Linked DNA regions of Homo sapiens. Changing the gene in region 2 together with the main gene of any one other region gives a genetic interaction. Each region holds a gene or a part of one and is shown on either strand. Other genes may lie near its edges. The genes, in order: SREBF2 and RNF139.

What was found.
Region 1: changes in RNF139 (region 2) and SREBF2 together harm fitness less than expected from each alone (positive genetic interaction), as found in Homo sapiens cells (one large-scale study listed by BioGRID).

What each region holds. Positions count from the first base shown.
Region 1 is NC_000022.11:41,867,528-41,871,349, forward strand, and holds part of SREBF2 (sterol regulatory element-binding protein 2), read left to right. Parts: intron 1-1,083; coding exon 1,084-1,265; intron 1,266-3,361; coding exon 3,362-3,508; intron 3,509-3,822.
Region 2 is NC_000008.11:124,481,094-124,484,915, reverse strand, and holds part of RNF139 (E3 ubiquitin-protein ligase RNF139), read right to left. Parts: intron 1,657-3,822; exon of another isoform or gene 1,509-1,656; intron 1-1,508. UniProt on the Homo sapiens protein: E3-ubiquitin ligase; acts as a negative regulator of cell proliferation through mechanisms involving G2/M arrest and cell death.

The DNA.
Region 1 (3,822 bases), on a different chromosome or scaffold from region 2:
CGGGCGCGGTGGCTCACGCCTGTAATCCCAGCACTTTGGGAGGCCAAGGCGGGCGGATCACGAGGTCAGGAGATTGAGACCATCCTGGCTAACTCAGTGAAACCCCATCTCTACTAAAAAATAGAAAAAATTAGCCGGGCATGGTGGCGGGCGCCTGTAGTCCCAGCTACTCGGGAGGCTGAGGCAGGAGAATGGCGTGAACCCGGGAGGCAGAGCTTGCAGTGAGCAGAGATCGTGCCACTGCACTCCAGCCTAGGCAACAGAGCGAGACTCCCATCTTAAAAAGAAAAAAAAAAATCCAGCAAGCATAGTAGACACAGGGCCATTCTGATAACTAGTGGTGGAGACTTGAATAAGGCTTGAAATTGGCTAGGCGGCAGCCAGATCTCAGCTGCCACAGTTGAGAACTATTCATTCAGCAAACATCTGAGCATCCACTATGGTGATGAATATGACTTTTAATATAGGTGCAGCAGCTTCAAGTAGCAAGCCTCATGCTGGGCCCTTAGTATGTGTTGAGGGAATGGATGACTGAAAGGGGCCTGTTCTTTCTGTGATGTGCTGCATCCCAGTGCCTTTTCATCATATTTCCCTCTGACTCTGTGGGGAGCCCAGGGTAAGATTAGTATTGCTTTGAATTTCAAAGAATCTTATAGTTCTTCAATGGAGTTCAAGAATTGGGACAGGTGGGGGAATGTAAAGGCAAAAAGCTGAGACAGTCCTCCCAAAGTGCACTTGCCGTCCAGAAAGGATGGAAGAAAATGAAGCCCCAGGGAGTTGTTGATTCTCAACATCTGTTAACTCCCTTGCTGGGTGCAGTCATTTGCTGATTAGCTTCCCTTTCCCCCACCCTGGCACCCAGAGTAATAAAACAATTTGTACTCGTTCCCTCAGAAATTGATGCAGCCCTTATGGGATGTTCTTGTTGTCTAAGCCACCTTGTAAATGGCTGTGCACATCATCTTCAGCAGTAGGTGGGGAGTTGGAATCATTATGAGATACTCCATCCTCAGGTTTCTGCTGCAGCTGCAGTGACAGAATGCATTCCTCATCTCTGTGCCTTCTTTCTCCTCTTCTCCCAAGTCCTTCAGCCTCAAGTCCAAAGCCTGGTGACATCCTCCCAGGTACAGCCGGTCACCATTCAGCAGCAGGTGCAGACAGTACAGGCCCAGCGGGTGCTGACACAAACGGCCAATGGCACGCTGCAGACCCTTGCCCCGGCTACGGTGCAGACAGTTGCTGCGCCACAGGTGCAGCAGGTCCCGGTAAGTGGCTGGAAAGGATTCAGGGAGGCACTGGTTGGGGCTGTTAACTGGTCCTTGGTTGAAGATGTGGTCTACATACTAAGAAGGACCAACCAGAGTGTACACAAAGCAGCTTGTAGGGCGCCAGGATGCACCTGTGAGCAGCGTATAGTGACCTGGCTGAGTCCATATCTGTAGATAGACACTGGCACTCAGGAAAGGCTGGTGCAGTCACTTACGTACACATGTAATGGGCATAAAACTGGAAAGAAATGTGCTAAATTGGTATTTCCCAGATAATTTTCTTTTTCATAGTTTTGTGTTGTGTTTTTTTGTTGTTGTTGTTGTTTTGAGACGGAGTCTCATTCTGTTGCCCAAGCTGGAGTGGAGTGGTGTGGTCTCAGCTCACTATAACCTCCGCCTCCCGGGTTCAAGCAGTTCTGCTGCTTCAGCCTCCCGAGTAGCTGGGACTACAGGCATGTGCCACCACACCCGGCTAATTTTTATATTTTTAGTAGAGACGGGATGTTGGCCAGGCTGGCTTGAACTTCTGACCTTGTGATCCACCCGCCTCGGCCTCCCAAAGTGCTGGGATTACAGACGTGAGCCACTGCCCTTGGCTTTCATAGTTTTCTGTTCTCCATATTTTCTGCTGTGGATCCTGAACATATATTGGGTTGGGGGGAGGGGGGGCATGTATTATTAATCTTTTTTTTAATTTTTTTTTTTTGGAGACAGTTTTGCTCTTGTTGCCCAGGTTGGAGTGCAGTGGCGTGATCTTGGCTCCCTGCAACCCCCGCCTACCAGGTTCAAGCGATTCTCCTGCCTCAGCCTCCCAAGTAGCTGGGATTACAAGCACCTGCCACTGCACCTGGCTAGTTTTTTGTATTTTTAGTAGAGATGGGGTTTCTCCAGGTTGGCCAGGCTGGTTTTGAACTCCTGGCCTCAAACAGTGCATCGATCTCGGCCTCCCAAAGTGCTGAGACTACAGGTGGGAGCCACTGTGCCCAGCTGGGGGACGTGTATTATTTTTATAATCACAAAAAACGTCTTTATGTTATATATCATCGTGGACTATATCCTCTTTTTTCTTTTTTTTTTTTTGAGAGTCTTGCTCTGTCGCCCAGGCTGGAGTGCAGTGGCACGATCTCGGCTCACTGTGCAACCTCAGCCTCCTGGGTTCAAGCAATTCTCCTGCCTCGGCCTCCCGAGTAGCTGGGATTCCAGGCACGCGCCATCACGCCCAGCTAATTTTTGTATTTTTAGTAGAGACAGGGTTTCACCATGTTGGTTAGGCTGGTCTCAAACTCCTGACCTCATGATCCACCTGCCTTGGTCTCCCAAAGTGCTGGGATTACAAGCATGAGCCACCACATCTGGCCTATATTTTCTTACTAACAATTTATCTTAAAAAAATCAGGTTTATTATTTTTGCTTCTCAGCCATGTGTCTGGCTTTCCTGAGTCTTTTCTCTCCTCTCTGCCATCCACCCTACCCATCTCTGCTCTGCTCCTGCTGGGCCACTGGCACCACCCTCTTGAAAGTCTTTCAACCTAAAAACCCATGACCTGGCTGAGCACCATGGCTCACGCCTGTAATCTCAGCACTTTGGGAGGCTGAGGCAGGTGGATTTCTTGAACCCAAAAGTTCAGGACCAGCCTGGGCAACATGGTGAAACCCTGTCTCTACAAAAAAATACAAACAATTAGCCAGGCATGGTGGCACACACCTGTAGTCCCAGCTACTCAGGAGGCTGAGGCAGCAGGATCACTTGAGCCCGGGAGGTCAAGGCTGCAGTGAGCTGAGATTGCACCACTGCACTCCAGCCTGGGCAACAGAGAGCAACCCTGTCTCAGCAAAAAAAAAAAAAAAAAAAAAAAGCCAGGACCCTCATTAGCTAGCCCCTCTTTCTCCACCTGAACCCGGTATTCAGGCTGTACAAAATAGCCGGCTTTTGAAATGGCCTCTATGAAATTTCCTGTTCATTTTTTTATTCTCAATTTCATAAAAATTATATCATTTCTCATTCTTTCTTGGAAGGTCTATGCAGTAAGAAAGGAATGCATAACAGAAGGATAATGCTATCATCCTTTTACTTTTCTTCCTTCTTCATCCAGGTCCTGGTCCAGCCTCAGATCATCAAGACAGATTCCCTTGTTTTGACCACACTGAAGACAGATGGCAGCCCTGTTATGGCTGCGGTCCAGAACCCGGCCCTCACCGCCCTCACCACCCCTATCCAGACGGCTGCCCTTCAAGTACCAGTAAGAGCTGCCTTCTCCCCCACCCTCCTCCCTCCCCCTTTATTCCTGGAGGTGTTAGTCTTCAGAGATGTTAAATCTCTATATGCTGAGTAGGTATGGGAGGGTCTATAGCACAAATCAGTCAAATTGTAAATGTCACCCCTCTTAGTTGTTTTTCGCTCGAAAAAGTATTAGCAATGTGTGTTCGATGTGGGAGTACTGGAGTCTACAAGGAGGTAGAAAAGAATAGCAGAAGGACCCTCTATTCTTGGCTAATAGCTCCACACAAGACCATTCACCTCTTAGATCCTGCTGATGACTTCTGAAGGACCCTA
Region 2 (3,822 bases):
CTAGTTTCCTTCGGACTTAGAAACATCTTCCAAGTTCCCTTTTTCCTGTATAATGCTGAATCTGTTTCTTAAAATAGTCAACTCTTTTTATTGTTCTTCACATTACAAAAGTAACACTCAGAAAACCAAGACATGTTTTTAGAAAATGGTAATTCTCCTTCCCCCACTCCATAGACACCATCTTTCTTTGTACTCTGACAGAAATGCATATTTTAAGTAGGATTACAATAAACACATTATTATCCAAGGTTTCAACAATGGGAATGACATCTGAATACTCACCTACTTTCACTCCTACAACTGCAAATCTCCAAAGTTCTGAAACTCGACTTGCCTTAAACTAGAATCAGCTTTTCCTTGTGATTTGCTATTTCAGTTGAAGGTACCATTATTGTTCTTTTAGAGATACTCCCAACCCAGCCCCACATGCTCAAACTTTGCCAATTAGTTGCCAAATTCTTCTAACACCTCTATCTCCCTTTTCTGTGACACCAATCAATCAGTCTGTCTCAAAAAACCCTCATCTTGTCCAAATCCATTTACAAGCCATCACCAAATTGCCTTTCTTCATTCCCTGCTCAAAATACTTCAGCGGCTCTGAAATTACTATCAACTAAAATCTACATTCTTGCTCCTGGCATTCAAGAACCCAATTTGCTTTACAGTAATATTCCTCCTAACACACACACATCAGTGCTCCAGACTTGGATTCCCCAAACACATTCCTTTCTCCACTATAGCTACAGCAGTGTTTACATTCTTTTTGCTTGGAATGATGTCCCCAACCTCCCAATCCCTGACTATTCAAATCCTACCTATCCTAGAAACCTACTTTCTTTGATAGAAACTGTTCTTTCAGCATACCTGCAGAACTTAGTGAAACATTTAACACTCATATATCACCTGATATTGTAGTCTGCAGTTATCTAAGTATAATCTACCCTATTACACATGTATCTATAACAGAAAGCAAAGATCCTACCCTGTCCATCTATGGATTCTACAATATTTTGTACAAAATAAGTACAATTAGTATTCATTAGGAAATGTCTGTCACATCTGGATGTTTTTAAAGGCAACCACAAAATATAGCCTGCTTGAAAAATAAAATCTATGTTTCAGACAATGAGAAACCATACCCTGGAGTACAGAAAAAGTGACAAACTCCAAATTAAAAATCCATCTTGGCTGGGTGTGGTGGCTCACAATGGTAATCCCAGCACTTTGGGAGGCTGAGGCGGGTGGATCACTTGAGGCCAGGAGTTCAAGACCATGTCAACATGGTGAAACCCTGTCTCTACCAAAAATATAAAAATATGCCAGGGTGGTAGCACGTGCCTGTACTCCCAGCTACTCAGGGGGTTGAGGTGGGAGAATCGCTTGAACCCGGGAGGCATTGCAGTTAGCTGAGATCGCACCACTGCATGCCAGCCTGGGTGACAGTGAGACCCTGTCTCAAAATACATAAATAAATAAATATTAAATAAAATAAAAATCCATCTATCCACCTTATTTCAGCAGGTAATCAAGACATTGCATATTATTACAGTAGACGCATTTCACAATCCACTGCACATATAAGCAAGGGCTAGTTCATTTAAGTGATGACTCTGTCCAGGGATTTAAAATGTATTCTGTGCCAAAATGTCAAGTCATCTGTGAAAAGGAAAACAAAAGGACACAATAAAGTAGAAGACATATAAACCTCTAAATACAAACCACCTGATTCCCCAAGAAAATGGGCCACTAATAATCCCCCAAAGAGTTGTGAGCTCAGAACAGGCTCTTTTAAATATATATATTTTTAATATATATATTTTTAAATATATATATATTTAAATAATATATATATATTTTTAATAGATATATTTTTAAATATATATATATTTAAATATATATATATATTTTTAATATATATATTTTTAAATATATATATATTTAAATAATATATATATATTATATATATATATATTTTTTTTTATATTTTTTTTAATGGAGTTTCGCTCCTGTTGCCCAGGCTGGAGTGCAATGGCGTGATCTTGGCTCACTGCAACCTCTGCCTCCCAGGTTCAAGCGATTCTTCTGCTTCAGCCTCCCAAGAAGCTGGGATTACAGGTATGTACCACCACTCCCAGCTAATTTTGCATTTTCAGTAGAGACAGGGTTTTTCCACGTTGGTCAGGCTGGTCTCAAACTCCTGACCTCAGGTGATCCACCCGCTTCGGCCTCCCAAACTACTGCGATTATAGGCGTGAGCCACTGCGCTCGGCCCTGAAAAGATTTTTTTATTAGAAACTTCTTCCATGGAAGGTAACAAGAAAATGGAATTAATTCAGCCTACCAGATGCCATATGTAATCTTACATTCTCTACATGGAAAACCACCTTATTTTCCTGAGACAAAACTTCAGAAACTTTAAAACAAATCTTCTAAGTTGGGTCAAAACCAAAACAAAATAACTCTAGTTCTACTTTATGCCACTTAGAGGGGAGAAAGTCAAGCAGGAACTGTAAATTATTTTTGTCAACTTGCTATTCACAAAGTAGTAAATTAATCTTCAGTAACTATTCATGAGCTTTGCCATAATTTTATAACTAATTTTTAAAATTCTAATAACTTTTTTCCTGAAGCTTGTTTTTACTACACACAAATGAAGAAATTATTTGGGTTTTAGAAACATTTCTAGTGAAAAAGTGCCATTTTGCTTTATGCAAATGTATCAAAGAAAAAAAGGGGAAGGCATCAGATAGACAAATAATGTAGTAAGACTACAACCTCAAAATTTGGATGTATCCCAGCAAGTAACAATCTGACAATACTCTATCCTGATTAAAATCACACCCCCCAAGATGTAATAGTGAGTTAACATTTCAAGAATAGTATATGTTTGTTTTAATTCCTACCCAAAGTTTGTAGGTATATGGGGTTCATAGATTTTCCTTTTATAGTCACGTTCCTACCTATGGAATTTGGGAAGAATCTGCTCTCATTTTAAAAACCAATATCCTAAGTAACAAGTCTCCAAAGTAATCATCTTTCTCATGGCCTTTGCAGAATAATATCAAAGTTTCACTGCATTTTTACATTAGACATGAAAGCCTTTCTTGGTATTTAAACTGTAGGTCTAAGAAAATATAAAAGTCCAGAGACAGTTTCTCATTAGGATTTGGAAGTGACTTGCACAAGTAATCAAGACTGTATATAAATGCTGCTTTATAAAAAATTTTGAGAACAGAATTTACTGAAATCACAACTCAGAGATCTCAGTCCAATTCTCCAGTGATTAAGAGAGTTCACTAGAGTTTTCAAGGTAGCCAAAAAGAGGCAGGTATCCAAATCAATTCAGGAACTTTGAAACTATATATGAACTCAACTCATGAAAGAGTTCAGGCCTTTTCAATTTGGATTACCAAAAACAGGCAAATAAAAACAAAAGAAAAAATAAAAACTTACTATACATGTTACATAACAAAGTGTTTCACTCTTTTATGTGTAAAGTCTATTCATACCCTTACCCTCTTTTGGAAACTTATGACTAAAAATCAGGGTACAAAACATAATATTTACAATTCTCCAAGTACCCGAAATACCTCTAAAACAAAAAGCAACCTGTGGAAAAACATTTCAATACCTGACAGAATAAATATGGAAAAGCACAGAAATAAATGTTACTACTACCTTACTCCCAAGGGAGCCTTCCGCAATGAAGTTTACAACAAAGTGTCTTGAAATGTTGTTAATCTGTTGGTATACTTGATAAATTATAAAGAAAACATTTCTATTGGATTCTCATTTTAGGTTGAAAAAAAACCTGGTATTCTA